7 separate regions of the Homo sapiens genome follow, and regions 1, 2, 3, 4, 5 and 7 are each linked to region 6. Evidence: fine-mapped QTL for protein levels in blood plasma. A gene starts in region 6. Each other region holds a variant in brackets. All regions are shown on one strand. Distances are from middle to middle.

Region 1 (4,069 bases), 930 kb before region 6:
CTAGGACTTACTCTAGAGATGTCCAGGGACCTGCCTGCTACTATTGCCATATGTACCCCTCTGTTCAACCAATTGCCAGAGGATTCCAGGCAACTGGCTGGCCCACAGATTACAGTTTCAGAATCACAGGCCATAGATCAACATGGAGAGCTGCTACCTGAGTCCAGGAGATTGGCAAACACAAGCTGACCCAGGGGCTATATTCAGCGCAGTAATTGATGAACTGGACACAGATAAAGGACCCATTGGTTGGCTGCAGATTGACACTTGTCAGTGGACTTGCAATGTGGCTTAAGTGGGTTCTTACGTTACTGGAGAATACAATGCATCCCCTTGTGGACTACTGCCCTTGGGAAACCTCCATGGGAATTTAAAAGGCAAGTGAGACCAGGTGCAGTGGCTCATGCCTATAGTCTCAGCACTCTGAGAGACCAAGATGGGAGGACTGCTTGAGGCCAGGAGTTGGAGACAAGCCTGGGCAACATAGCAGGACTCCATCTCTACAAAATAAAAAAAAAAAAATTAGCCAGGTATAGTCGCACACGCCTGTGGTCCCAGGTACTTGGGGAGCTGAGGGAGGAGAATCGCTTGAGTCCAGGAGGTTGAGGCTGCAGTGAGCTATGATCGTACCACTGCACTCCAGCCTGGGGAACAGAACAAAACCCCGTCTCTGAAAATATATATAAAATAAATAAAATAAAAGGCAAATCAAAGCAGGGCATGTCAATGCTCACCAAAAGAAGCCTTATGCCAGGGTCTGAAGGTGGCCAGAATCAACAAGTGAATACCTAGTTTATTTTTTTATGAGATGGAGTCTCACTCTGTCACTTAGGCTGGAGTGCAGTGGAGCGATCTTGGCTCACTGCAACCTCCGCCTCCTGGGTTCAAGTGATTCTCCTGGCTCAGCCTCCTGAATAGTTGGGATTGCAGGCATGCACCACCACATCCTGCTAACTTTTGTATTTTAGTGGAGACAAGGTTTCATCATGTTGGCCAGGCTGGTCTCAAACTCCTTACCTCAAACGATCTACCTGCCTCGGCCTCCCAAAGTACTGGGATTACAGGCATGAGCCACTGCACCTGGCCCCTTAGTTCATTTTATTTATTTATTTTTGAGGCAGGGTCTTGCTCTGTTGCCCAGGCTGGAGTGCAGTAGCACCATCACAGCTCACTGCAGCTTCAACCTTCCAAATTCAAGTAGATCCTCCCATCTCAGGCTCCCAAGTAGCTGGGACCACAGGCATGTGCCACCACACCCAGCTAATTTTTTTTTTTTTAGTAGAGATGGGGTCTCCCTATGTTGCCCAGGCTGGTCTCAAACTCCTGACCTCAAGCAATTCTACTGCTTCAGCTTCCCAAAGTACTGGGATTACAGGCTTGAGCAACTGCACCTGCCCTACTTCAATCTCATAAAGTAGCAATGTGGGTCCATAAAATGAGTGGGCCCGGGGCACTCGTGCCATGAAGTGAGGGGCTGAGCACCATGTAGTACTTTCCCTGCAGAAGTTCAAATGTTTACTAAACATTGCTCTGTTTACCAACAGAAAAGGTTATGTTTGCAGTTAGGTCTGGGAGTATTTCCTGGGGAGGAAGTCCAGCCCACAGCTGGCAAGTAGATGATACTGGCCCTTTACCCATTTTTCCAAGAGAAATTAAATGGACACCGACAGGTCTGCATGCATACTCTGAGTTTGGCTTTGTTTTTATTTTTTAATTATTTTTAGTTTTTACAGGCAGGGTATCACCTGTTGCCCAGGCAGGAGTACAGAGGTGCAATCACAGCTTACTGCAGCCTCAACTTCAGAGGCTCAGGCGATCCTCCCACTTCAGCCTCTTGAGTAGCTGGCACTACCAGTGCATGCCACCAAGCCTAGCTAATTTTTTAATTTTTTTGTAGAAATAGGGTCTCACTATGTTGCCCAGGCTGGTCTCAAATTCCTGGGCTCAAGTGATCCTCCTGCCTCAGCTTTCCAAAGTGCTGGGATTACAGGCATGAGTGATCACACCTGGTCTGTTTGGCTTTGATAGCCATATTGGTTTGGCACTCTCAGTTACGTTTTCCCAGATCAAGACACTCAATCCACAGCCCATGCCGAGCAACAATGAGCAAAGAACCAGCATATTCGATGGACTTATCACATTCTTTATCACTCTCAAACTCTCAGGTTAATTGAAAATTAAAATGGGCAATTAAAACACTGTCATGTCTGTAATCCCAGCACTTTGGGAGGCCGAGGTCAGGAGATCGAGACCATCCTGGCTAACATGGTGAAACCCCATCTCTACTAAAAATACAAAAGTTAGCTGGGCATGGTTGTGCGCACTTGTAATCCCAGCTACTTGGGAGGCAGAGGCAGAATCGCTTGAACCAGGTTGTGG[T/C]GGGCAGATCGCTTGAGGCCAGGAGTTCCACATCAGCCTGAGCAATCTAGTGAGACCCCGTATCTATAAAAAATTTAAAAATGAGCCAGAAGTGGTTCATAGTGGTTAAGTAGCTGTAGTCCCAGCTACTCAGGAGGCGGAAGGGGGAGGATCATTTGGAACCCAGGATTGAAGGCTAGAGTGAGCTAGGATTGTGTCACTGCACTCCAGCCTGGGCAAGAGGGAAACCCTGTCTCAAAAATAAAAAAAAAAACTGAGGAGACGTGATAAAGGAGTGACACTCAGCCTACAACCACCCGGCATTTTGTTCAGAGAAGGACTAAGTGTAGGACTCTTTGGACAAATTATTATGCTTTTGTGGTGGGAATTGGGGAAAGGAGGAGGGGTGTGATGGTTAATATTGAGTGTCAACTTGATTGGATTGAAGGATGCAAAGTATTGTTCTTGGGTGTGTCTGTGAGGGTGTTGCCAAAGGAGATTAACATTTGAGTCAGTGGACTGGGAGACGCAGACCTACCCTCAATCCAGGTGGGCACCATCTAATCAGCTGCCAGCGAGGCCACAATAAAAAGTAGGCAGAAGAACGTGAAGAGATTAGACTGGCTTAGCCTCTGAGCCTACATCTTTCTCCTGTGCTGGATGGTTCCTGCCTTCAAACATCGGACTCCAAGTTCTTCAGCTTTGGAACTCAAACTGGCTTCCTTGCTCCTCAGCTTGCAGATGGCCTGTGATGGGACCTTGTGATTGAGTTAATACCCCTTAATAAATTCATATATATATATATATATTCTATTAGTTCTGTCCCTTTAGTGGACCCTGGACCCTAATACACATTTTGGTACCAGAAGTGGGGTCCAGAACAGGAGAAGGCTCTGCAACAGGTCCAGTCCACTGTGCAAGCTGCTCTGCCACTTGGGCCATATGACCCAGCGGACCCAGTGGTGCTTGAGGTGTCAGTGGCAGATAGGGATGGTGTTTGGAGCCTCTGGCAGACCCCCATAGGCCTCTAGGATTTTGGAGCAAGGCCCTGCCATCTTCTGCATATAACTACTCTCCTTTTGAGAGACAGCTCTTCACTTATTACTGGGCTTTGGTGGAAACTGAACATTTGACTATGGGTCATCAAGTCACCATGAGACCTGAACTACCTGTCATGAACTGGTGTTTTCTGACCCACCTAGCCATAAAGTGGGTCGTGCACAGCAGCATTCCATCATCAGATGGAGGTGGTATATATGTGATCGGGCTCCAGCTGGTCCTGAAGGCACAAGTAAGTTACATGAGGAAGTGGCTCAAATGCTCGTGGTCTCCACTCCTGCCACCCTATCTTCTCTTCCCCAGCCTGAAATGATGGCCTCATGGGGAGTTCCCTATGATCAGTTGACAGAGGAAGAGAAGACTAGGGGCTGGTTCACAGGTGGTTCTGCACGATATGCAGGCACCACCCAAAAATGGACAGCTGCAGCACTACAGCCCCTTTCTGGGACATCCCTTATGGACAGCAGTGAAGAAAAATCTTTCCAGTGGACAGAACTTCAAGCAGTGCACCTGGTTGTGCACTTTGCATGGAAGGAAATGGCCAGGTGTGCGATTATATACTGACTCATGGGCTGTAGCCAATGGTTTGGCTCTATGGCCAGGGACTTGGAAGAAGCATGATTGGAAAACTGGTGACAAAGAAATTTGGGGA
Region 2 (4,069 bases), 350 kb after region 6:
GATAAGTACCCATTTCTAAACATAATGCAAGTTTGACATTTAAGCTCAATAGTTTAGCTATAGAGCATTTTGGTAACATAAAAAGAAACCAGAGCAATTTGAGTGACCTTTGTGAAAGACAGGCATAGAGGTAGCAACCACCAGTCTCACCACCAAAATCTAAAAACACGGAAAATTAGCATTTATCAAAATTTCTCAGAGACTATGTTACCTACCCAAGATTCCACAGCTAGGATGCAGTGTTTGAGTGTCTACTAACAAGGCTGGGAATTATTAAACACAGAAAGCGTAACAGAAACACTTAGTTCCTCTTGGGTCTTATGGTCCAGTTGATAAAACTTCCAGCACTTTGAACAGATTTTCACTTACTGCAAAGAAAAATGCTTAGCTGAATTATTGTCTGTCTGGGTTGCAAGTAGCACACCCCCACCATCTGTAAAATAATATTTTGGTAGACTAGAGGGCATGTTGTTAAAGGAACCCAAAGGAGAATTATTTTGATAAAGTTAGGGACAATCTCTAGTATGTGTGTTTTATAATTCTGCAACTTATGTAGAAATATATCTGAATGAAATGTTGTTGAAAAGCTGTATATCATTTTAATTTTAATAAATCGAGTCACATTTTATATTCACTGACTGAGAAGTTGGTATTTAGGAAACCTGTGAGAAATTACTTTAATAATTTGTGTGTATGGCAAACATTCACCTTCTGACTTAATTCAGAATTTCTATATAAAAACAAAAATTTAATTCTTTAATATCATCTTAAAATGAGGGATGTTCATGCCATGTTAAATAAATCATTTCCACTTATTTTTAATACATAGTATTAGTTAGGATGCTTGCAGCTGCAAATGATAGAAAATCCAATCCAAAATGGCTTTAAAAATTGTTGTTCTTTAGGTCTATCACCCTAGACTTCTGCTGTCCAATATGATAGTCATTAGCCACATTTAAATGTAAAGAAATCAAAGTTACATTTACATTTAAGTGTAAAGTAATTAAAGTTAAATACAATTTGAAATTCAATTTTTTCAGTTTGCACTAGCCATATTCCATCAAGTGACCAATAGCCACATGTCACTAATGGCTGCTCTATTAAACAATGCAGATATGGAAAAATCTTCTTCACCTCAGAAAGTTCTATTAGACAGTGCTGGCTTCAAAGAAAAGGAAGTTGTTAAATCAGTAGGCAACAGTATCTGTTATATTCCCTATGTAGCAGGCAATAATCTTTATGCATATTATTTCCTTTAACTTCCCAACCGCTCTATGAGGCAACTATTATTATAATGTACTAGTCTGGACTCTAGGTTGCTAGCTAAAAATGGGAAAACATAATTAGGAGAACCTTGAACTATCTCACATATCTACAAGAAAAGCCTGGTTAAGGTCCTCATCACCATCAGAACTCTTTCCATCTGCCACCTTTATTCTGTTGCACAAGTCAGTATTATTCTTCCAGGTCAGCTTCCCCCTTGTGGTGGAAACTTCCCAGCCTCATATCTCACAGCCTCAAACTACTGCCTCCCACCCCCTGAGAGAGAATGATCCTCCTCCTTTCACTCCCATTTTAGATATTACTCGGAAGGACTCTGATAATTTAGCTTTAGTGAAGAGCTCAGTGTTAAATCAATCAGTTGTGGCTGAAGAGACACCAGGGAGAGGATCAGGGTTGTAGAATAGAGACATGGCCGGAGGGGCTCCACTTATGGACAGGGAAAACGATTTCTAGAGAAACTGGAATGCCAGGGTCCTCTCCTTCAACACATTTCTGAGTCCTCAAGGCTCTATCTCAGGCCCTCTGCAATTTCCACCCCACATACTTTCTGAATCTGTCTCACCAAGTCCCATTAATATACTAGTGAGGCCCCAATTCTCTGTCTCAGCAAGACCTTGTATTCTTAGCTTCAGACTCACATAACCAACTAACCTTTCCCAGACATCTGCAGCTGTATATCTCATAGGCTCCTTAAACTCAGTATATCCCACAAAATTCATCATCCTCCTTCCCCCTCTTCCCCAATCATTCATTATATCAGGAATGCTCTTTCAATCAATGACCGAATTTCCCATGCCAAGAATCAAGGCATCATCCTTGATTTGTCCTCTCCTTAAACATCCAATTAATTGCCAAGCCCTACATATATCCCTAAAATGTCTTTTTATTAATATGTCCATCTACTTCTGTCCATTCCTAGTACAGTGCAACCATCATAGGCTGGGCCACTATCATTTCTGGAAAATTACTGTAGTATCTCATGGGTCTCCCTTCCTCCAGTGTTATGCCTCACCAATACATTATCCATACTACAGCCAGAATAATCTTTCTAAGATGGTGATTCTATTATTCTGCTTAAAACCTTCTGGTGCCCATTCATTGACTTTCAAAACATTTTTCAACTGCCTCTTGAGGCATATAAAGTCTTATATGATCTGTCCCTTGCCTAGGTCTCTATCCTTACTCTC[C/T]TACTATCCCCCTCTCCTAGTCTCTACAACTGCCATCCTTTCTCTTGCCCACTGCTCTTTGTGCCACCCTCTGGTTAAAACAATACTACTACTGATAACCTCTTTTTCTTAATTCTGCTCATATTTTAGTCTCAACTTCAATGACACCCATCTTCTCCCTTAGGCTACATCAGTTCTCCCTGCTATATGCTGACTATTCAGTTAACATAACACATTGCATTGCAGGAACTGTGCTAAATTATTCACCTTCCCAATTAGACTATAAGCCCCATGAGGACAATAACCATTTTCGTTTTGCTCACGAACATGTCCTTGACATCTAATAGCTAGTGCTTGACAAAGAGCAGAAAATAAGCTGAATTTAATTCTTTCATTTATTCCACAAATATTTTAAGGAAGCCTGTTTGTGCCAGATGCCACCCAAGGCACTGAGATGCAGCTGTGAATGAAACAAAATCTCTTCCTACATGAAGCTCATGTTCTTGCAAGGTAAAAAAAAAACAAAACAAACAAACAAACAAAAAAAAACCAAACAAAAAACCCTAATAAACTAATAATTTTTTAGAAAATGCTTAAATTGTATAAATAAATATAGTTTTAATATTTGTATAACTTTTTACATTTTTATTTTTACTTTTTATTTATTTATTTTTATTATTATTATACTTTAAGTTTTAGGGTACATGTGCACAATGTGCAGTTTAGTTACATATGTATACATGTGCCATGCTGGTGTGCTGCACCCATTAACTCGTCATTTACATTAGGTATATCTCCTAATGCTATCCCTCCCCGCTTCCCCCACCCCACAACAGTCCCCAGAGTGTGATGTTCCTCTTCCTGTGTCCATGTGTTCTCATTGTTCAATTCCCACCTATGAGTGAGAACATGCGGTGTTTGGTTTTTTGTTCTTGCGATAGTTTACTGAGAATGATGATTTCCAATTTCATCCATGTCCCTACAAAGGACATGAACTCATCATTTTTTATGGCTGCATAGTATTCCATGGTGTATATGTGCCACATTTTCTTAATCCAGTCTATCATTGTTGGACATTTGGTTTGGTTCCAAGTCTTTGCTATTGTGAATAGTGCCGCAATAAACATACGTGTTCATGTGTCTTTATAGCAGCATGATTTATAGTCCTTTGGGTATATACCCAGTAATGGGATGGCTGGGTCAAATGGTATTTCTAGTTCTAGATCCCTGAGGAATCGCCACACTGACTTCCACAATGGTTGAACTAGTTTACAGTTCCACCAACAGTGTAAAAGTGTTCCTATTTCTCCACATCCTCTCCAGCACCTGTTGTTTCCTGACTTTTTAATGATCGCCATTCTAACTGGTGTGAGATGGTATCTCACTGTGGTTTTGATTTGCATTTCTCTGATGGCCAGTGATGGTGAGCATTTTTTCATGTGTTTTTTGGCTGCATAAATGTCTTCTTTTGAGAAGTGTCTGTTCAAACAAATTTACAAGGAAAAAACAAACAACCCCATCAAAAAGTGGGCAAAGGACATGAATTTTTTACATTTTTAAAATTGTATAAATGAAACCTTTTTAAATGACATTTTCATTATGTACTCCAAGTTGTCTTT
Region 3 (4,069 bases), 300 kb after region 6:
AAGACTGGGCCAACATGCAGAGGGCCTCCACAGCAGCAATACGAACCTCTAGAAAAAAGAACAAATGAAATTGCACATCAGGCTGGGCACAGTGGCTCATGCCTGTAATCCCAACACTTTGGGAGGCCAAGGTAGGCAGACCACTTGAGCCCGCCTATGCAATGTGGTAAAACTCTGTTTCTACCAAAAATATTAAAAAATTAGCTGGCTGTGGTAGTGTGCGCCTGTTCTCTCAGCTACTTGGGAGGCTGAGATGGGAGGATCACTTGAACCTGGGAGGCAGAAATTACAGTTAGCCAAGGTCGTGCCACTGCACTCCAGCCTGGTGACAGAACGAGACCCTATCTCAAAACAAAACACACAAAAAACAAATTAGCCAAGTGTGGTGGCGCACGCCTATAGTCCCATCTACTTGGGAGGCTGAGGGAGGAAGATCACTTGTGCCCAGGAGTTTGAGGCTGCAGTGAGCCATGATTGTGCCACTACACTCCGTCCTGGTGACAGACTGGGCCCCTGTCTCAAAAAAAAAAAAAACTCCAAAAACAAAAAAACAAAAACTGCACATCAGCCAGGTGCAATGCCATACACCAAAGTCCCAGCTACTCAGGAAGCTGAGGTGGGAGGATCATTTGAGCTCAGGAGTTCAAGGCTGGCCTGAGCAACACACTGAAGCCCCATATTTTATATATATATAAAGTAACTCATATCAAATTAAGAGCCATGGGAAAAGTCCAAGATGGATTCATTCTCCTTCAGGCTGTCTTCTATTCTCTACTCCTCTCATTCTATAAACTCTCCCTGGGAGATCTCTATGCCCACAGTTTCACATACCACCCACCTTAACATCGATCTAAGAACATGGACTTTAGTATCACAAGGACTATGGCTTAAATCTGACTCCACATATATGTGATGAGTCTGTCTACATGTCTGTCTACATTAACTTCTTGAAAATTAAATTGTCTTACTTATCTCAGTATTCCGACCACAGTACTTTTTAAAAAGTCAGTTAGTAAATAATGTTATCATTATTATTAAGATTAAAGTAGACTAAATATCATTGTTCGAATTTTACAGGTAAGATTCAGCAACGTGGATTAACTTGCCTCAAAGTGAATGAGGGCAGGACTAGGACCAATACTCAGGTCTGTTGATTGTAGGCTAAAATCATATAGTGGTTAAGGATACATGCTTGGAATGATAGAGGTCTCAGAGCACACTGTAGTGAATGATCCCTCCACTAAGTTGGAGGGTGATCTTGAATAAGTAACTCAACTTCCTGGCACCTCAAATTTCTCACCTGGTAAATGGACATAATACTCATTTCCTTACAGAGTTGTTAGGACTAAATGAGATAATACAGGTAAAGCACATAGGGACTCTGCCTGGCATATTTTAAGGGCTCAATAAGTATCACCTAGGGTATAGGTTTGGGTTCTGTAAGCACCCTGAAAACAGAGGCATGTTTTCCACCCCTTGGCATGCTCAGAACATGTAAACAATAAAGCCACTGATCCGAGGAAGCCCTTTCTTCATTCACTAATAAATGGGTCCTGAACACGTACTATATGCTAGGTGCAGTACTAAGGGCTAGGATACAAAGATGAGAAATGAGTA[A/G]GACACAGAAAATGCTCACAAGACTTCTATACATGGTTGTTTTTTTCTAGTGATTCCCATATGCTTCTGTAACAAAATGGACTATTCCAAAACAAACAAAACAAAAAGTACCTAAAGTTGTGGTTAAAACTCACAAACACAATTTCCTCTTTGTATAAAGAAAGGTTTTATAGACATGTTAAAAGTAGAGTTACTACATTAAAGACAGATGATTCAGGTTTTTCTTGGTAGTTATGAATTCCTCCTTTTCATCAGAAGAGAACAATTTTCTTCATTTCACAATAATATAATTTAAACATGAAATTGCTAATTATAAGGCAAGCTAGAGATAAACCCAAACATGTTAAGTGCTGGCTCTTCCTCCTAGAATTTTAACCATTACACCACACTGACTCATATGTAACGTTTGCAAGTCCACCAAGGCAATCAGGAAGGAATTTCTGATCAGAAAGAGATAATCAGTGTGACCTCAGCTGATACAGTTCCAAGCAGAAGCAAAGAAATGTGGTATTTTACTTTGCCTGAACGGCCAGACTATAAGCAAGAAAATTGATATTTTCCACTGAACTTTTTGGAACGTTGAAGATACGTCGGCCAGGCATGTCACGCCTATAATCCCAGCACTTTGAGAGGCCAAGGCAGGAGGATCACTTGAGCCCAGGAGTTCAACACCAGCCTGGGCAACATAGTGAGACCCCATCTCTATAAAAAAAGTTAATTAAAAATAAATAAATAATATGTCACAGATTCCCCATGGGTACAGAGCAGAGAAAAGGAATCTACTATACTATATTTTAAAAAAGACTGATCGTCAGCATCTGCACATGTATAATTGGGTCCAGACTTAGCTACCTATTAGGTTTGTACTTAGTACTAAAGACACAAAGATGAACAAAAGCAAGACTATCCCCCAGGCTTACAAATAAGAACAGTTAATTGCATTACAGAGTGATGACTGTTGCCATGGAAAAGCACAGGGAATGTAAGAAAATGCATATGAAGAAATATAGCCCAATCAATGGGATCAGAGGTGGCTTTCTGTAATACGTGATCCCTAAAAACAATAACTAAAAGAGCTGCTAAGCCAAAAGAAAGAAAAAGGCCTTTCTAGAAGAAAAGCTGCATGCACAAAGTCCCAAAAAGGAGAGAGAAGATGGATAAATTAGAAGACTAGAAGTATGTGAGGCACTACACTAGAGTGAACAGCCAGCGAAATAAGGCTCCATTTCATTCCCAGCAATGCACCCCTAAAACCCAAATTTTCCCAGAATTGTATAAATGTGATAAAATTAGAAAGCTGTCATACCTGATACCTGGTTATGGTATACTCACTTTTTAAACTTAAGTTAATTTGATTACATCTTAATAACATTTGCAACACGAAGGATAAATCCTTGAGGAGATGGATACCTATCTATATGATGTGATTATTTCATATTTCATGCCTGTATCAAAACATCTCATGTACCCCTTAAATATATATACTAGTATGGAACCAAAAAAGGGCCCACATAGCCAAGACAATTCTAAGCAAAAAGAACAAAGCTGGAGGCCTCACGCTACCTGACTTCAAACTATACTACAAGGCTACAGTAACCAAAACAGCATAGTACTGGTACCAAAACAGATATATAGACCAATGGAACAGAACAGAGCCCTCAGAAATAACACCACACATCTACAACCATCTGATCTTTGACAAACCTGACAAAAACAACCAACAGGGAAAGGATTCTCTATTTAATAAATGGTGTTAGGAAAACTGGCTAGCCATACGCAGAAAACTGAAACTGGATCCCTTCCTTATACTTTATACAAAAATTAACTCAAGATGGATTAAAGGCTTAAATGTAAGACCTAAAACCATAAAAACCCTAGAAGAAAATCTAGGCAATACCATTCAGGACACGGGCATTGGCAAAGACTTCATGACTAAAACACCAAAAGCAACGGCAACGAAGCCAAAATTGACAACTGGGATCTAATTAAACTAAAGAGCTTCTGCACAGCAAAAGAAACTATCATCAGAGTGAACAGGCAACCTACACAATGGGAGAAAATTTTTGTAACCTATCCATCTGACAAAGAGCTAATATCCAGAATCTACAAGGAACTTAAATTCACACACACAAAAAAGAAAAAAACCATGACCCCATCAAAAAGTGGGCAAATGATACGAACAGACACTTCTCAAAAGAAGACATTTATGCAACCAACAAACATATTAAAAAAAGCTCATCATCACTGGTCATTAGAGAAATGCAAATCAAAACCACAGTGAGATACCATCTCACACCAGTTAGAATGGCGATCATTAAAAAGTCAGGAAACAACAGATGCTGGAGAAGATGTGGAGAAACAGGAACACTTTTACACTGTTGGTGGGAGTGTAAATTAGTTCAGCCATTGTGGAAGACAGTGTAGCGATTCCTCAAGGATCTAGAACCAGAAA
Region 4 (4,069 bases), 340 kb after region 6:
TCTACACTTTAGCTCATTCTATTCTCTGTCTACCTAAAATGCTGTCCACCAATCATATCTCTTCCTATTGAGGTATGACTCGTTCTTCAAGATTTATTCTTAATATTTACCTGTCTCCAAAGTCTTTACTTATCACTCTAGCTGAAAGTATGGCAGCCCACCTATGAACTCTCAAAGTTGTTTATACTACTACTCTCCCCCATGTTGTTTTGTTCTGTCATTATTGGTGCAAATGCCTGCTTTCCTTGATTAGAGATATAATGTGTGAAGAGTTGATTGATAGTTGCCAACTGTCATTGAGCACTTTGAACATGTGAAGTTAAGTGCTTGATCATAGTTCTCACATCCTCATAACTCCCCTGTGAAATATATGGTGTTTTTTCATATCCGCGTTAAAGAAACTGGGATTTACAATGATGTAACATTGGACAAATTAAGGTCTCAGGACAGGAGGTCACGGAGTGATGAGCCCTGAATTACTCTAGGTGGGTTTAACTCCAAAGCCCATGCCCTTACCCAGGGGAACACACTGCTTCTGAAGATCTCATTCACCATGTTAATGACCACACCCCCGCCAACCCCACCACGTGCCTCCTAACACTAGGCATGCTCCATGTGTGATGAGTGAATAGATGACTAATACTTCGTATGCTTAAGGTCATTTACAATTCACAAAACTTGTTGACAGCTATACTTGATTTCCATATGATTTCCCCAACATCTCTGACGCAGCTCCACAGGAAATGTTATCTCCATTTCACAGAGGCTGAGAGAGTTCAGAGTCCTCCAGAAGCTCACATTGCTATTTAGTAACAGGCATAGACAGGACTTCAGCCCACGTGTTCTGCCTTCAAGTTCTGCCAGCCTTTCTTCAAAACCCTCTGTGAGTTTGAAACTCATCAACAATCAGCAAAGGCTCAAAGTGTTATTGTATCTTAATATGTCTTTTTTGTTGTTTTTTTGAGACAGAGTCTTGCTCTGTCGCACAGGCGGGAGTGCAGTGGCGCCATCTCGGCTCACTGCAACCTCCATTTCCTGGGTTCAAGCGATTCTCCAGCCTCAGCCTCCCGAATAGCTGGGATTATGGGCACCCGCCATCATGCCTGGCTAATTCATTTGTGCTTTTAGCAGAGATGGGATAGGGTTTCACCATGTTGGTCAGGCTGTTCCCGAACTCCTGACCTCAAGTTATCCACCCATTTTGGCCTCCCAAAGTGCTGGGATTACAGGCATGAGCCACCGCACCCAGCCTTAAGATACTGTCTTCTAAAACTTGCCCTTTTTATTGTTTAAAAAACATGATGAGGCCGGGCACGGTGGCTCACGCCTGTAATCCCAGCACTTTGGGAGGTGGAGACAGGTGGATCACCTGAGGTCAGGAGTTCGAGACCAGCCTGGCCAATATGGGGAAACCCTATCTCTACTAAAAATACAAAAATTATTTTTAGTTTTTGTATTTTTTGAGATTGCAGTGGTGGGCCCCTGTAATCTCAGCTACTCGGGAGGCTGAGGCAGGAGAATTGCTTGAACTCAGAAGGCGGAGGTTGCAGTGAGCCAAGATGGCGCCATTGCACTCCAGCCTGGGCCACAGAGTAGTGAGACTCTGTCTTGGGGTGGGGTGGGGGGAGGGGGCGGCGGGGAAGAAAAAACAACATGATGAGGCTTAATTGTTTATGTCTAAGGGAGGGG[G/A]AGAGGCAATTTAGTCAAGTTTTCAGTGCTTTTAAATAGCCACAGATTTCAATCTTTATCATATTGTTTTTGCCCTAACCCTATTAGGATAACTTGCTTACATTAAACAAAATTCTGAGAATGTTAATTAGCAATTCAGTTATGAATATGCATGATTATTTTTAAGTCCACTAATATTATGCATAGGTCTTTTCTGTAATTATATCTAAATGTTCTCTTTTTTTCTCTCCCTCTCTATTTCTCCTTCAGGAAAGCCATTTAAAACACATTTGGGAAATGTCTGAAAAAAGTAATTCTATTACTCTTATTTCCAGAATTTTCTTAAATATTTTATGGCTATAATTTTTTCCTTCTCAAGGCAAAACAGTACATCACCACATACATTATCATATTTGTTGACAAATATGAGAGTCAAGGAATTAATTTTACACCAGTTAAATAACAGAAGAAAAAGTTATTCTGTATTTTCTTCTTTATTATACTAATTTTCTCACATCCGTAAATGGTTTTATATTTTGTGGCTATCTGCAATTATATTTAAGGGCGAGTATTATACCACCATTTGTTTCACATCCAACTTGGAGCATTTTGTATTTGTGTATACATATAAGGTTAGTCAGGAGTGAGAGATAGGATTAAACTCATCTAGTTTGCGTGCCCTTTCTCAGTCACAATGCAGTCTTTACAAACAATTTTTCCTTTAACAGAAAAACTGAAAACATGTCTAAAAAAATAATTTGCCTTAAGACAACCCTTCTAGGAAATGGCGAAGATCTGTTTCAAACCCAGGCCTGCCTCATGCCAAAGCCTGTGACCTTTTCACTATTAATGACCAAATGGTTGAATGACTGTTAAATAAGTCTCTTGGGTAAAACATAAACGTGCCTGATACCCCTTCATTAAAATGTTTATTAGATAAATAAATAAATTGGTGGACGGAGCTCAATATAATCAGCTCATTTGCCTCCACACCAAAAGAGAACATTTTCAAATGAACATGCAGGAGGAATACATGATTACAAAAATGCTTCAGCAATGATTTTGCTTTTATAGGATTACTCGTCCCAAGTTCGATAGTCTTAATGCACATGCAATTTGCTTGAAGTCTATAATGCCCTTGCATTTCAAGCTGAGGAGTCTGATCATCTGGAAACTAAAAATTAAGGATCTGAAATATTGTTAACTAAATAGATTGAACTAAAATTAGCCTCTTAGGACTTAAAGTGCTTCCACATAAAGTCCAAGAGCTAGAAACGAGAATGATGTTCCCTACAACCAAATATTGCCTTAATTCCAAATTTAGCTTCTGCCACTTGATCTAATGTTACATCAAGGCACATGAGCCCTCTGCATGTGAAGAGCTTACACCAATTTGAAGCAAATGCATCACATGAGCAAGAATGCAAATTCCAATAGTAATAATGTTTCTTTCACTATTTATTTCATTCCTTATTTTTCATACTTGTTGCCACTTTGTGAACCTGCCTCCAATCACTTTACACTGGCTTATTTTAAAAGCCTTTTAACTGTTCTCCTTACTGTCACCCTTTTTTCCTAATTCCACTGCTCCTACAAATGGTTGCTAGAAAAATCTTCCCCAAACACAGCTTTTATCACAGGCTCAAAAACCTATCACAATTCTCTAATGCCTGGTCTATAAGACTCTTAAAGTCTTTCCCCCTTCTCACCAGCCTAGTCTCTCCCTGAGGCAGTTTCTCTATTAAGAAGAAACAATATTTTGCTATGCCCTGTATTTTCTTTTCTGTGCCTTTTGGCATGCCAGTGCTAGTGATCCTAACGTAGAGCTTTCAAACATGCTTTGCAAATTATCTTTGATGTATTTTCATATGGGTGTAGTATCAGCCTCTGTATTAGTCAGGGTCCCAGAAAAAAACAGAATTCATCCCAGAGTGTTCAAATAAAGAGATTTTAATAAAGGAGTTATTTGCATTAATTGTAGACAGACTTAAGGAGCAAACAAGGTGGCAGGGCACCCAAAGGATAGCAATGGTGAGAATATAATACTACCCCTAGGGATAAACAGTCAAGGAAAAGGAGCAGTGTTTCCTTAGGAGCCCTGCATCAGAAGAGGTACAGAGGAGAACAGGGCGAAGGGAGTTATATCCTGAAAGGACATGATCACGGCCAGCGCACAGGGCCGAAGTAGGACCTGAAGAAGAAATACCCTGACTTCTTTCTCTTCCTGCCCTCCAATATCCTGCTAAAGCCTTCCATAGGCCCCACCCAAGACAAACACAGAGAGCAGAGAGTCCCAGTCATGCAAATGACAAGGGTCAGCTTCCCAGAGCACACGGAAGACATGGAATAGTGTTGAGTGCATGGGGGCATGGCAAATGGAGAACAATTTGCACAGTCTGAG
Region 5 (4,069 bases), 480 kb after region 6:
CCCCACGATTTTCAGAGGTGCTGATGCCTAATAAACTCAACCCCTTGCATGCCAAAATTGGCTTAAAGCCCACCCGTTACCCAAGCTACACTTCAAGCATCAAGGTTCAAAAATGTAATTTTAAATATGCAAGAGTTTGAGGAATTCACTACTCACACTTTCTTGAACAGTCTATCCAAGTGCATCAAGCAAAATGTGAGTAAAGAAATTTTGGCCAAAGGATTGATAGTAATGTTGAATACTTTTAATAGTAGATCTAAGATTAAAAGGTGAGAGTGAGGGTGAGAAGAGTGTATGAATGCTTTGTGTTCTGACAAAGAGAATGTAGCACCCATGTCCTACCTGCTTGGTTGCATTGCCATTGCCCACGGTAGGCTATTTTATCCGGGTTTTTAGGTTTTGTTTTGTTTTTTTCTTTTCAGGAGAGTTAGTCCAAGACAAATAACTCCATAACTGGTATAATTGGAAGACTTTAATAGTGCTTAACATTTTATACATAGCTTTATAACAGTTTTTTTTCTTTTTTTCTGAGAGATTCTTTTCAATATACCCCATCATGGTTGAACTCAAAGTCATTGCTTATTTAAAATCTACAACTGCTGACGTTTTGTAACCTTTGCATTCCAGGTAATTGGTTTTTTGTGCATTTTCTGTATTTTTCTCCATCAGTCTACCTAGATATTTGTTAGATTTAATATTTTAATATTTTTCTGAAAAAGTGAGCTTTTGCATTTTTAAATATATACTCTGTGGCTTTAATTCTGCTTTTTCATGTACCGGTTCCTCCTCTTTTTTTTTTTTTTTTTTTTTTTTTTTTTTTTTTGAGACAGAGTCTTGCTCTGTCGCCCAAGCTGGAGTGCAGTGGCATGATCTCTACTCACTACAACCTCCACCCGCCACATTCAAGCAATTCTCCCACCTCAGCCTCCCGAGTAGCTGGGATTACAGCTGCATGCCACCATGCCAGGCTAATTTTTGTGTATTTAGTAGAGAATGGGTTTCACCATGTTGGACCAGGCTGGTCTCGAACTCCTGACCTCAGGTGATCCACCTGCCTCGGCCTCTCAAAGTGCTGGGATTACAGGCGTGACCCATGGCGCCTGGATATTTCCTTCGTTCTTTATGTTTATTTTACTGGTTTTATCTCTCTCTCTCTCTCTCACTGTTTCTCTCCTTCTCACATTCACTTTGCAGTTGTCAAATAGCCCAGGTGATGTTACAGATTTACTCCTTATAAAAGGAGGCATTACACATTATACTTGCATCTTAGTGGCCTTAAAAAAGTGTTTGGTTCATTGTATTGACTATTGACCTTTATAATATTTCAATATTCATTAAAATAGCTTCCAACCAATATTATTAGACTTATGTTTCTAGCTTTCTTTTTTGTATTGATATCTACCTTCATTGCTGTTTGTTTAGGAAATATATTCTGTGTCACGTTATTTCCGTGAAAATTGTTTGAATTTGTGTTATGGTCTAGAAAATGTTAATTTTTGTAAGTATTCTGTATGAACATGAAAATAACATGAATTATAATATTCATGTTCCTTATAAAACATTTGCCCTTTTTAAAATCCACTAGCTTCTTTTAAAACTTACTCTTTTAATTTTTTCTTTTATCTATTACTGAAAGATGTGTGTTTGAAATGTCTATAATGATTTGGGGGCTTATCCATTTCTACTTACTTTCTGATATTTTTGCTTTATATAATTTGACTCTCTAAATACGTGTGTGTGTGTGTGTGTGTGTGTGAGAGTGTGTTGTGTGTGTATTTATGTATATATGTATCAGGCTAATGCACATTTAAGTCATCACATCTTAATAACTTAAAATTTTTATCACACTGGTTAGACTAACTTATTTTAATAAATGTTTCTAACTTACATTCTATTTTGTCTGCATAGCAACTTTTTAAAAAATTATATTCATGTAGTATGTATGTATATCATATATACACAGTATCTGTATTGTTTGAATTTCAAAGTTTCTGTAAATTTATATATTAGTTGCCTCTCTTGTAACTATGATAGAGACGGATTTTTTTAATTTTGCCAATCTTTGTATTTTAATAGAAACATCGTGTACTTAGGTTTAAGTTAATCTTTGATCATTTATACTTA[A/CTTAA]TTTGTTTTATTAATTTGTTGTGTATATATATATATAAAATGTCTCATTTTCTCCTATTAGTTTCTGTCTTCTTGTTTTTAAATTATGACTTATTTTTATTGTTTTCATAGATACAACAGAGAAATGCATAATGTCCAGCGAATTTATTAAAGTTCCAAAGTCGGTCGCGCGCCGTGGCTCACGCCTGTAATCTCAACACTTCGGGAGGCCGAGGCATGTGGATCATGAGGTCAGGAGTTGGAGACTAGCCTGACCAACATGGTGAAACCCCGTCACTACTAAAAATACAGAAATCAGCCAGGCATGGTGGCACGCGGCTGTAATCCCCGCTACTCAGGAGGCTGAGGCAGGAGAATTGCTTGAACCTGGGAGGCAGAGGTTGCAGTGAGCCGAGATGGCGCCACTGCACTCCAGCCTGGACGAAAGAGTGAGTGAGACTCCTTCTCAAAAAAACAAAAAAAAAGAGTTGCAAAGTCATACTCACCTTTCTGCTCTTGTCGGACAATTAAGGGGTCTTTGAATACTTCAGCCCTAATAATTTGCTTCCTAACATACATATTGCAGTGCTTATCTAATTTTGAATATCTTTTTGTTTCAACACCTAATTTTTTATTTAGATCTATCTGTATGTTTACAGTATATTTTGCTCTGTGTTCATTCTCTGATTTCAGAACTTCAGCCTTTCTGAAGCATGTTTTCAGAGTTTCTCTTTAGTTTCTTTAGTGGAATTCTGCTGGTGGCGTTTTGTTTTTTGTCTCTAAATATGTTATTTAGCCATAGGTTGATGAATATTTTTCTTGCTTGAGAATTTCAGAATGGCATTATTATTTTTAACAAATACTATTATTTTACCTTTCATTCTTTCAGATTTCAATATGATTAAAGGTAATTTGATTTTTCTAGTGCTAAGTGAAATATTTTTCCCTTCCTGATTGTTTACTATTACTCTAGGAGATACGTAGGTGTAGGTTTATCTCCATTGTAGCTTGCTTAGCATGCATGGAATTTTTGAACATGCGGATTAGTGTCTTACAAAAGTCTAGAGAACTTTCAGCCAAAATACCATCACATATTCTCCCTTCCCAGTTCTATTCTTGTATGAGAACACTCACTACACACATGCTACACTTTCTCACTGTATCATCCATGTCTCTTAATGATTCTGTCCACATTTTGCATTTTTTAAAATTTTCTGTAATGCATTCTGAAATATTTATGAACTCTCACCATGGCCATGTCTAATCTGATGAGTTCATTTTTGAGTTTTTAATTTAAAATACTATATTTTTATACAAACTACTTTTCGAATTTGCTACATCAATTTTTTAGTCTCCTAAAAATATATTCATTTTATTTTAAATTTTTTTAAAGCAAATTTGCTTTATAATCTAACAGTGATATTTCTACTAATGAAACTTTGTGGATCTGTTTGTACTCTTGTTCTGCTTTCCTTTCAGATGGTGGAATATCATTTCCTTGCGTACTTAGATGCCTTTGAATGACAAATATTTATTTTTCTCTGAAAATTATTTTTGTGCACTTTTGAGGATTAGTAAGAAGAAAATTTGCCAAAGAGAATTTGAATTTTTTTGTGAGTCTACTAAAGACACCACCATTCTGGGACCACATTATGTTAATTCTTGGCCTAAAGGTGTTTGGATGTATGTTTGGACTGCACATTTAAACAATTTTTAAATTAATTGCTGTAAATCATTAATGATTGAGTTTCTTTAAATCTGTCCAATCTCAAGTCATTTTTATTTGCCATTTCCAGGGAATGTGAAATGGGACTAATTTACCTCTGATTCTTGTTTATACTGAGGACAGAAATTTTGGTCCTAGCTTTAGGGAGGAGCTCCTGTGTGATGCCCTATCTTGGGAAAAGCTGTGTATTTCTTTACTGTCCTATGTGATGAATGACAGTAGGAATCTGCACTCATTCAT
Region 6 (4,060 bases):
AGGGCTCCCTCTGTATGGCAGAGGCACCTGACATCCGTAACTGTTGTGCACCCTGCGAATGACTTTATGGTCTAAGAATGTATGTTCAGAGCCCCAGCTAAGGAATCAGGAGTGGCAAGATCCTGGAAGGATGCCAATCTATGAAACCCTGAGTCAAGAGGTCAAGCTGGGCACTTGTTTTCCTTTTTCTTTTTTTTTGTAGGAGTTTCACTCTTGTTGCCCAGGCTGGAGTACAATGGCGTGATCTCGGCTCACTGCAATCTCTGGTTCAGGCGATTCTCTCACCTCAGCCTTCCCGAGTAGCTGGGATTACAGACATGTGCCACCATGCCCAGCTAAATATGGAGATGCGGTTTCTCCATATTGGTCAGGCTGGTCTCGAACTCCCAACCTCAGGTGATCTGCCTGCTTCAGCCTCCCAAAGTGCTGGGATGACAGGCGTGAGCCACCGCACCTGGCCAAGGCACTTGGTTTCTTAGATCACCCACTTGGCCCTCTTCCAAGTTGTACTTTCCTTCTTTCCTTCCTGTTCTAAAGTTTTTTAATATTTTTTTTTTTCCTGAAATGGCATCTCACTCTGTAGCCCAGGCTGGAGTGCGGTGGCGTGATCTCAGCTCACTGCAACCTCTGCCTCCTGGGTTAAAGCATTTCTCCTGCCTCAGCCTCCCAAATAGTAGGGATTACAGGTGCCTGCCACCACGCCTGGCTAATTTTTGTATTTTTAGTAGAGATGGGGTTTCTCCACGTTGGCCAGGTTGGTCTCAAACTCCTGATATCAAGTGATCCTCCCGCCTTGGCCTCCCAAAGTGCTGGAGTTTGGAGTTACAGGCCTGAACCTCTGTGCCTGGCCTGCTTTTTTTTTTAGACTGAGTCTTGCTCTCTCGCCAGGCTGTAGTGCTGTGGTGCGATCTCGGCTGACTGCAACCTCTGCCTCCCGCGTTCAATCGATTCTCCTGCCTCAGCCTCCCGAGTAGCTGGGACTACGGGCGCATGCCACCATGCCCAGCTAATTTTTTAGTAGAGATGGGGTTTCATCATATTGGCCAGGCTGGTCTCAAACCCCTGACCTCGTGATCCCCCCACCTCCGCCTCCCAAAGTGCTGGGATTACAGGTGTGAGCCACTACGCTCAGCACTGGCCTGCTTTTTAACAAGCTTTTACTACTGCTCTGCAGCTTACCTCCCTCTGGCTTTCTGCCTTATGCCCCTCAGTGCAATTCTTTCTTCTGAGGAGGCAAGAATTGAGGTTGTTGCTGATGTGTAGGGATTCACCACCCGGAACTCCACCAGTAACAGGTCGAGGATGCTAGTTGAAAATGTTATGTAAGCTGCATGCTTTTTACAAATGGTAGTGGTTCTCATGTCCAGCAATGGCCACTGCACCGTCCCTGTATGAAAGTCCCCTCCATAAATCTATGTCTCCTTTGCTGTCTCCAGATCTCCTCCTCTACCTCTCCCACACGGTGCCTTCCCTACTGGAGTAAACTGGGGTCCCGCAGGGCACCCTTTCCCTGCAATTTTTTTTTTTTTTTTGAGACAGAGTCTCGCTCTGTTGCCCAGGCTGGAGTGCAGTGGTGCGATCTCGGCTTACTGCAGCCTTTGCCTCCCGGGTTCAAGCGATTCTCCTACCTCAGCTTCCTGAGTAGCTGGGATTACAGGCACGCACCATCACGCCCCGCTAATTCTTTTTTTTTTTTTTGTATGTTTACAAAATAGGGACGGGGTTTCACTATCGTTGGCCAGGCTGGTCTCGAACTCCTGGCCTCAAGTGATCTGCCCCCCTCGGGTTCCCAAAGTGCACCTGGCCTCTCTCCCTGCATCTTTATGTGCCTGCAACACCAAGAGGGAGCTCTTGGCCCCTGGGTTAAGGTCAGGGCTCCAGAAGCCCAGGGTCAAGGCTATGGCCGCATCCCAAGGACGTGCATCCCTGCAAGAGGCTGCATCAGACAGGCATGGAAGAGGCGCCGCTGGGGCCTCCTTGAATTCCTGCTGGGAAAAGCAAGTGGAGGTGCTCCTTGAAGAAACAGGGGGATCCCACCGATCTCAGGGGTTCTGTTCTGGCCTGCGGCCCTGGATCGTCCAGCCTGGGTCGGGGTGGGGAGCAGACCTCGCCCTTATCGGCTGGGGCTGAGGGTGAGGGTCCCGTTTCCCCAAAGGCCTAGCCTGGGGTTCCAGCCACAAGCCCTACCGGGCAGCGCCCGGCCCCGCCCCTCCAGGCCTGGCACTCGTCCTCAACCAAGATGGCGCGGATGGCTTCAGGCGCATCACGACACCGGCGCGTCACGCGACCCGCCCTACGGGCACCTCCCGCGCTTTTCTTAGCGCCGCAGACGGTGGCCGAGCGGGGGACCGGGAAGCATGGCCCGGGGGTCGGCGGTTGCCTGGGCGGCGCTCGGGCCGTTGTTGTGGGGCTGCGCGCTGGGGCTGCAGGGCGGGATGCTGTACCCCCAGGAGAGCCCGTCGCGGGAGTGCAAGGAGCTGGACGGCCTCTGGAGCTTCCGCGCCGACTTCTCTGACAACCGACGCCGGGGCTTCGAGGAGCAGTGGTACCGGCGGCCGCTGTGGGAGGTGCGATCTCGGGGCAGGGCCGGGAGGCGCCCGAAAGCCCGGCGGTGGGAGTAGGGGAGCCCGGGCCCCCCGCAGACTTCTTCCCCTGGGCGTCTCCGAGCTGGGGCCCGCAGGAGGTTAAAGGTCAACGGGCTTGGGGGCGCCGGCTTGGGGGACGGGGGAACAGGAGCACCCTGGAGGGCCGGGGCGGATTAGGCAGGAGGAGAAAAGGCTCTTGCCGAGCCCTTTCCCGAGGTAAAGGCTGAGTCTGTGCAGTATCCTTCCTTTCAATATTTATTTTTAATTTTTAAAAATTTTTTTGAGACTGGGTTTGCACCTGTTTCCCAGGCTGGGGCGGAGTGGCGCCAGCCTAACTTCTGAGCTCAAGCGATTCTCCCGCCCCAGCCTTGCAATTTAGGGGGTGCCAACACGCCTGGCTAATTGAAAAAAAAAAAATTATCTGGGCTCGGTGGCTCACACCTGTAATCCCAGCACTTTGGGAGGTGGAGGCGGGCGAATCGCCTGAGGCCAGGAGTTTGAGACCAGGCTGGCCAACATAACAGGGTGAAACCTCATCTCTACTAAAAATATAAAAATTAGCCAAGTGTGGTGGTTCATGCCTGTAATCCCAGCTACTTGGGAGGCTGAGTCAGGAGAATTGCTTGAACCCGGGAGTAGAGGTTGCAGTGAGCTGAGATCAGGATGCCACTGCACTCCAACTTGGGCGACATAGTGAGACTACGTCTCCAAAAAAAAAAAAAAGGCAAAAAAACTTAAAAAAAAAAAAAAGATACAGGGTGTCACTATTTACCCAGGGTGGTCTCGAACTCCTGGCCTCAAGCCATCCTCCCACGTTGACCTCCCAAAGCGCTGATTACTGGCATGAGCCACCCACACACTCTGGCCACAGCGGCATGCACTGCACAGAGCTGGGCCCGGGGATCGGGAGAAGGTGACAGTTTAGATGTCCTGAGGTCAGCTCTGCCGAGGCAGGAAGTCCCTTGGTTTTCAAGGTTCACATAGAGGACAGGACATGACATCAGGCCCAGGACGCCACCCCTGTTCCCCTCCTGACTTGGATGTGATCTGCAGAGAAGTGGAACTGGGTGAGGTCTGGGCGGCTTTTGCCTGGTCTACATCCTCTTATTCTGACTTTGCAGCATTCAGTACAGGAGGGAAAGAGGAGGGGGCTGGGTGCCAGTGTGCACCCCACTCACAGTGTCCTAAGCAAAGCTCCCCCCATTCCTCCAACCAGCCTTCCTCCCTGTGACAGGCAGTGGCCATCTGCCTCTTAGTCACAGGTCTGAACCTTCTTGCCTCTGGCTGGGATGTGGCCCTGGGCTTGCTCCTGTCTCAGGAGATATTGTGCCCCATCCACTCTGAGGAGGAACTCCTGGCCCCACTGGCCCAGGTGCACAGATCGCCCTGGCAGTTGACCTGTCATCAGCAAGTTATCTGTCCTTTCTGCCAAGAATCCCCGCTATGTGTCAGGGCTTGTGCTAGGCCTGGGGGCA
Region 7 (4,069 bases), 360 kb after region 6:
CCACAGAATCTGGATTCGGCCACAAACCAGTTCAGTATTTGTGCCTGAAATAAAAGTCTAATCATATACCATCTACAGATGCTAAAGGAACAGCTACATACCTCGGCTGAACTTAGAAAATATGATTTTTTTTATTGTACTTTAAGCTCTGGGATGCATGTGCAGAACGTGCAGGTTTGTTACATAGGTACACATGTGCCATGGTGGTTTGCTGCGCCCATCAACCCATCGTCTAGGTTTTAAGCCCCGCATGCATTAGGTATTTGGCCTAATTTTCACTCTCCTTTTGCCCTCAACCCCCTGACAGGTCCCACTTGTGATGTTCCCCTCCCTGTGTCCATATGTTCTCATTGTTCAACTCCCACTTACGAGTTAAAAAAAAAAAAGAAAGAAAATATGAGTTTGGAGAAACTGGTTATTCTGAAAACAGCCTATTAAAAAGTTATGTGACTGGTTAACAGTGTGTGTGTGTGTGTGTGTGTGTGTGTGTGTGAGTCCATCCATTTCATTAACTGGGGTATTTTCACCAATACAGTCTAAATAACAGGAAATGAATTTAAAGAGAATCAAACAATAACATTCAGAACTCAAAGTTAAGCATAGTGTAAAATATATCTCAGTGGAAAGCATGTAAGTGTCTTAACTCTCCTTCCAAACCCATCTATAAATTGCCACTTTGTATTTTCCATTCATGTATCCTCCTCTCCAAGAAGCTGGACCTTTTTACTGCTGTTCACGCACCTACACATCACGTCCTACTCCATGCCTTTGTCCTGCTGACTCCCCATTTCTTCTCATCTTGGATGTCTTTCCCAAATCCTTCTTGTCATCAAACACTCATCTCCTCCACAGAGCTTTGGATTTTACAATGTGAACTTACATACATTTTCTGAACTTCCCTAATTATCTATATCCAAATTTAGCATTTAATCATAGAACTTTCCTCTCTGATTAAGTATATGTTTGTGTGTACCTTTTTATCCCCCAACCAAATCACATGATTTAAAGGTAACATTGGTCTTTAATGCCTCTCCTTAAAGTTTCCATCAAGATCCTACTCTGCATTTATTCTCTTTCACTAGTTATCCCTTCTCTTTTTTTTGAAAACATGCTTAAACGTGCCCTATCCTAAAGAAATCTCCAATTCTTTCTCAAGCTCTCCCACCATATCTACTTTCTTTCTCTCAAAACTTCTTTAAACAGCATCCCTTCCTCCACTTCTATTCTGTTCTCTCTCAACCCCTCTAATTTGGTTACCCAGGCACACCCTTATCTCTCAGCTGCAAGTCCCTGCAGCACTGAAACCTCACGCACCTGTCTTTCTCCTGGAGACTGAGACAACCTTGACTCCCGGTTCATCTCCTTCCCCCAAGCCCAGCATTCTCAGTGTCCTTTCCTGGTTCCTGCCCTTGAATTCTCAGTCATCACTCCTCATCTTTTCTCAGTCTCCCATGGCAATTGCATTTCTGCTTTTGTCTTTAACTTCAAAATCTCCAAGACTTCCTAATCTCAAATTTTAGTGAACTGTCTGTGGGGTCCCAGACCTTATGCTGCCACCTGCTGGCCAGTTTCACGGGGCTATCTCAGAACAAAATTCAAGTTTATTCCCAAACACCTAACCATTCTATTTATTTTATTTTTCCTCTGTTAACTAATTACATCACCATTTTCCTAGACCTCCCCGATAGAGGTTTAACATCAGCATCCTCCATGATTTAACGATCTTCGCCCCAGCATCAACCACTCAGCTGGTTGTTATATAAATACAACACTATATAGCGTTAGATAAACATAACACTACCTACCAGAGCGTCTGTCCTGTGTGTTACATCCCTAGCTAGCTTTTTTTTTTTTTTTTTTTTTTTGGAGATGGAGTCTCACTCTGTCGCCCAGGCTGGGTGCAGTGGTGCAATCTCGGTTCACTGCAACCTCCACCTCCCGGGTTCAAGCAATTCTCCTGCCTCAGCCTCCCAAGTAGCTGGGACTACAGGCGCCCGCCACCACGCCGGGCTAATTTTTTGTATTTTTAGTAGAGATGGGTTTTCACCATGTTGCCCAGGCTGGATTCAAACTCCTGAGCTCAGGCAATACGCCCACCTCGGCCTCCCAAAGTGCTAGGATTACAGGCGTGCATCACCGTACCACCGTGCCCGGCCCCTAGTTAGCACTTCTTAGACCATGACGGCCTGTCCCCAGGATACTGGATGAGTCCTCATTGACCTGCCTCCATTTTCTCCCCTGAACCCCAATCCTCCTCACACTTCTGCCAGGCAAATCTTCTTGAACCGAGTGTCTGAGCAATTCTCTAGATGAAGAGCCTCAAGACATTGTGTCCTACTGGTAGAATAAAGCCCAAATTCCGCAACTCTGGAACTTCTGGAAAGAACTTCAAGACCGTGCATGATCTGGCTCCAGACTATCATCAAAGCCTCAGCTGTCATCACGCTTCCTCTCGCGATATTCACTCTTGCTCCAACCTCCCTGAACTATTTTTTTTT[TC/C]CTTTACTTTGAACAAAAGAGCCTTACTCTGGCGCTAGAGCTTGTCATGCACTCCCGTCATATCTTTACACAACTGATCACTTCTTGTCACTCAGGTCTTATCTCAAATGTCACCTCCTCTGGCGAGGCATACTTGGACCACACAGTCTAATTACCTTCCTCCTCCTAATACCCAGGTTAGTCTTTCACAGTTAATCTGTTGTATTTCTTCTAAGCACATCTCAGCATCTGAACACATCTGTTCATTTATGTTTATTATGGAGTGTCCATCTCCCCACACTCAAATGTAAGCCCCGTGAGCATGAATATTGCCTTTCTTCACTCAACCCAGCTCCTGGAAAAGTGCCTGGCACATGGAAGCCTGAAATCAGATTCTTCCACAGCGTGGCACCCATTTCCACCTCCTTGTTCTGTCTCTGTTTATACGTCTGTGCTAGCTTTTAGTATATTACATCTTTTATTTGAACAGCTATTTCCAAAGAAAGTGAGGAGGAGGGAAAGGAGGACATATCAAAGTCTGGGGGTGGCGGGGTAGAAGAAGGAATGAATCATTTCTAAAACACACATTCAAGTTGTGTAGTTTTCAGTGTAAAGGATTTGCGCATTTTTGTTAAAATTGACCCTTATATATGTTGTATGTTTTTGATCCTACTATAAGCAGTATTCTTTAAATTTCATTTTCTATGTGTTAGTTTCTAATATGTACATTAAAAGTGAATGTTTATATTGACCTCATATCTGTAACCTTGCTAAATTTACTACTCATTTCTAAGTAACTTTTAAAATTATGTGGTTTTGGGCCAGGCATGGTGGCTCACGCCTGTAATCCCAGCACTTTGGGAGGCCAAGGTGGGTGGATCACGAGGTCGGGAGTTTGAGACCAGCCTGGCCAACACGGTGAAACCCCATCTCTACTAAAAATACAAAAATTAGCCAGGTGTTGTGGCATGCACCTGTAGTCCCAGCTACTCAGGAGGCTGAGGCAGGAGAATCGCTTGAAACCAGAAGGCAGAGTTGCAGTGAGCCAAGATCGCGCCACTGCTCTCCACCCTGGGTGAAAGAGCAAAACTCTGTCTCAAAAAAAAAAATTATGCGAGTTTTTTTTCTATGTGCACAATCATCTGAAAATAAATATAGTTTTAATCATATATTCAAAAATGCATATTCAATATCATTATTATTTTCAAGCACAAGCTATGGAAAGTAAAGCATCAAAAAATCATACATGTTCCAAGATAGCTGCTATGCAGGATTTAAGAAAATAATAGTATTATAGGAGACAGGGATTAAAATAGTTGAAAAATACTGTCTTATAGCAACTTATTATGATACATATTACATTTTGAACCCCTGGAGAGCAATACCATGTCTTATTTGTCTGTATTCCATCAAACCTAATAAAGTACATTTTCCAAAGTAGACAATAAATGTTTCCCAGATACCTCAGTACTGTATGCATGGTATATGTTCAATAAAAACTTGCTGATCAATTGAAAGAACCAATAAACAAATTTAAGTTTTTTGAATGATCAGTGTATGCTGAGCCCTGAGACACTATAACAAAAAGACA

Direction of the effects. Alleles are on the strand shown, and positions count from the first base shown. The strength of an association depends on the size of the effect and on how common the allele is.
In carriers of allele C in region 1, the plasma level of the protein whose gene starts at base 2,328 in region 6 tends to be lower than with T alone (moderate association).
As copies of T replace C in region 2, the plasma level of the protein whose gene starts at base 2,328 in region 6 goes up (strong association).
With allele G in place of A in region 3, the plasma level of the protein whose gene starts at base 2,328 in region 6 is lower (strong association).
In carriers of allele G in region 4, the plasma level of the protein whose gene starts at base 2,328 in region 6 tends to be higher than with A alone (strong association).
With allele CTTAA in place of A in region 5, the plasma level of the protein whose gene starts at base 2,328 in region 6 is lower (strong association).
With allele C in place of TC in region 7, the plasma level of the protein whose gene starts at base 2,328 in region 6 is lower (strong association).

Evidence for each region. PIP is the posterior inclusion probability: the model's chance that the variant is causal. The UK Biobank Pharma Proteomics Project read protein levels with antibody pairs (Olink). The fine-mapping took linkage between variants from a reference panel, not from the people measured, so its PIPs are less certain.
Region 1: its variant is fine-mapped to the plasma level of the GUSB protein (UK Biobank, PIP above 0.99).
Region 2: its variant is fine-mapped to the plasma level of the GUSB protein (UK Biobank, PIP above 0.99).
Region 3: its variant is fine-mapped to the plasma level of the GUSB protein (UK Biobank, PIP above 0.99).
Region 4: its variant is fine-mapped to the plasma level of the GUSB protein (UK Biobank, PIP above 0.99).
Region 5: its variant is fine-mapped to the plasma level of the GUSB protein (UK Biobank, PIP above 0.99).
Region 7: its variant is fine-mapped to the plasma level of the GUSB protein (UK Biobank, PIP above 0.99).

The regions. Positions count from the first base shown.
Region 1 is chr7:66,908,486-66,912,554 of GRCh38, reverse strand. No RefSeq gene overlaps it. Among named protein-coding and RNA genes, the nearest start is that of LINC02604, 6.4 kb to the right of the region's middle. The variant T/C (reference allele first, on the strand shown) is at 2,380.
Region 2 is chr7:65,628,863-65,632,931 of GRCh38, reverse strand. No RefSeq gene overlaps it. Among named protein-coding and RNA genes, the nearest start is that of SNORA22, 120 kb to the left of the region's middle. The variant C/T (reference allele first, on the strand shown) is at 2,472.
Region 3 is chr7:65,681,581-65,685,649 of GRCh38, reverse strand. The region is part of intron 3 of LINC03006 (long intergenic non-protein coding RNA 3006); the gene reads left to right. It also overlaps the pseudogene INTS4P2. Among named protein-coding and RNA genes, the nearest start is that of SNORA22, 72 kb to the left of the region's middle. The variant A/G (reference allele first, on the strand shown) is at 1,618.
Region 4 is chr7:65,640,386-65,644,454 of GRCh38, reverse strand. No RefSeq gene overlaps it. Among named protein-coding and RNA genes, the nearest start is that of SNORA22, 110 kb to the left of the region's middle. The variant G/A (reference allele first, on the strand shown) is at 1,690.
Region 5 is chr7:65,497,602-65,501,670 of GRCh38, reverse strand. It overlaps the pseudogene LOC101929322. Among named protein-coding and RNA genes, the nearest start is that of ZNF92, 130 kb to the right of the region's middle. The variant A/CTTAA (reference allele first, on the strand shown) is at 2,125.
Region 6 is chr7:65,980,481-65,984,540 of GRCh38, reverse strand. GUSB (glucuronidase beta) reads left to right here and starts at 2,328. Exons shown (of 12, transcript NM_000181.4): 1 at 2,328-2,567. The coding sequence starts at 2,358. RefSeq lists enhancers at 2,153-2,282, 3,739-4,060.
Region 7 is chr7:65,619,267-65,623,335 of GRCh38, reverse strand. No RefSeq gene overlaps it. Among named protein-coding and RNA genes, the nearest start is that of SNORA22, 130 kb to the left of the region's middle. The variant TC/C (reference allele first, on the strand shown) is at 2,499.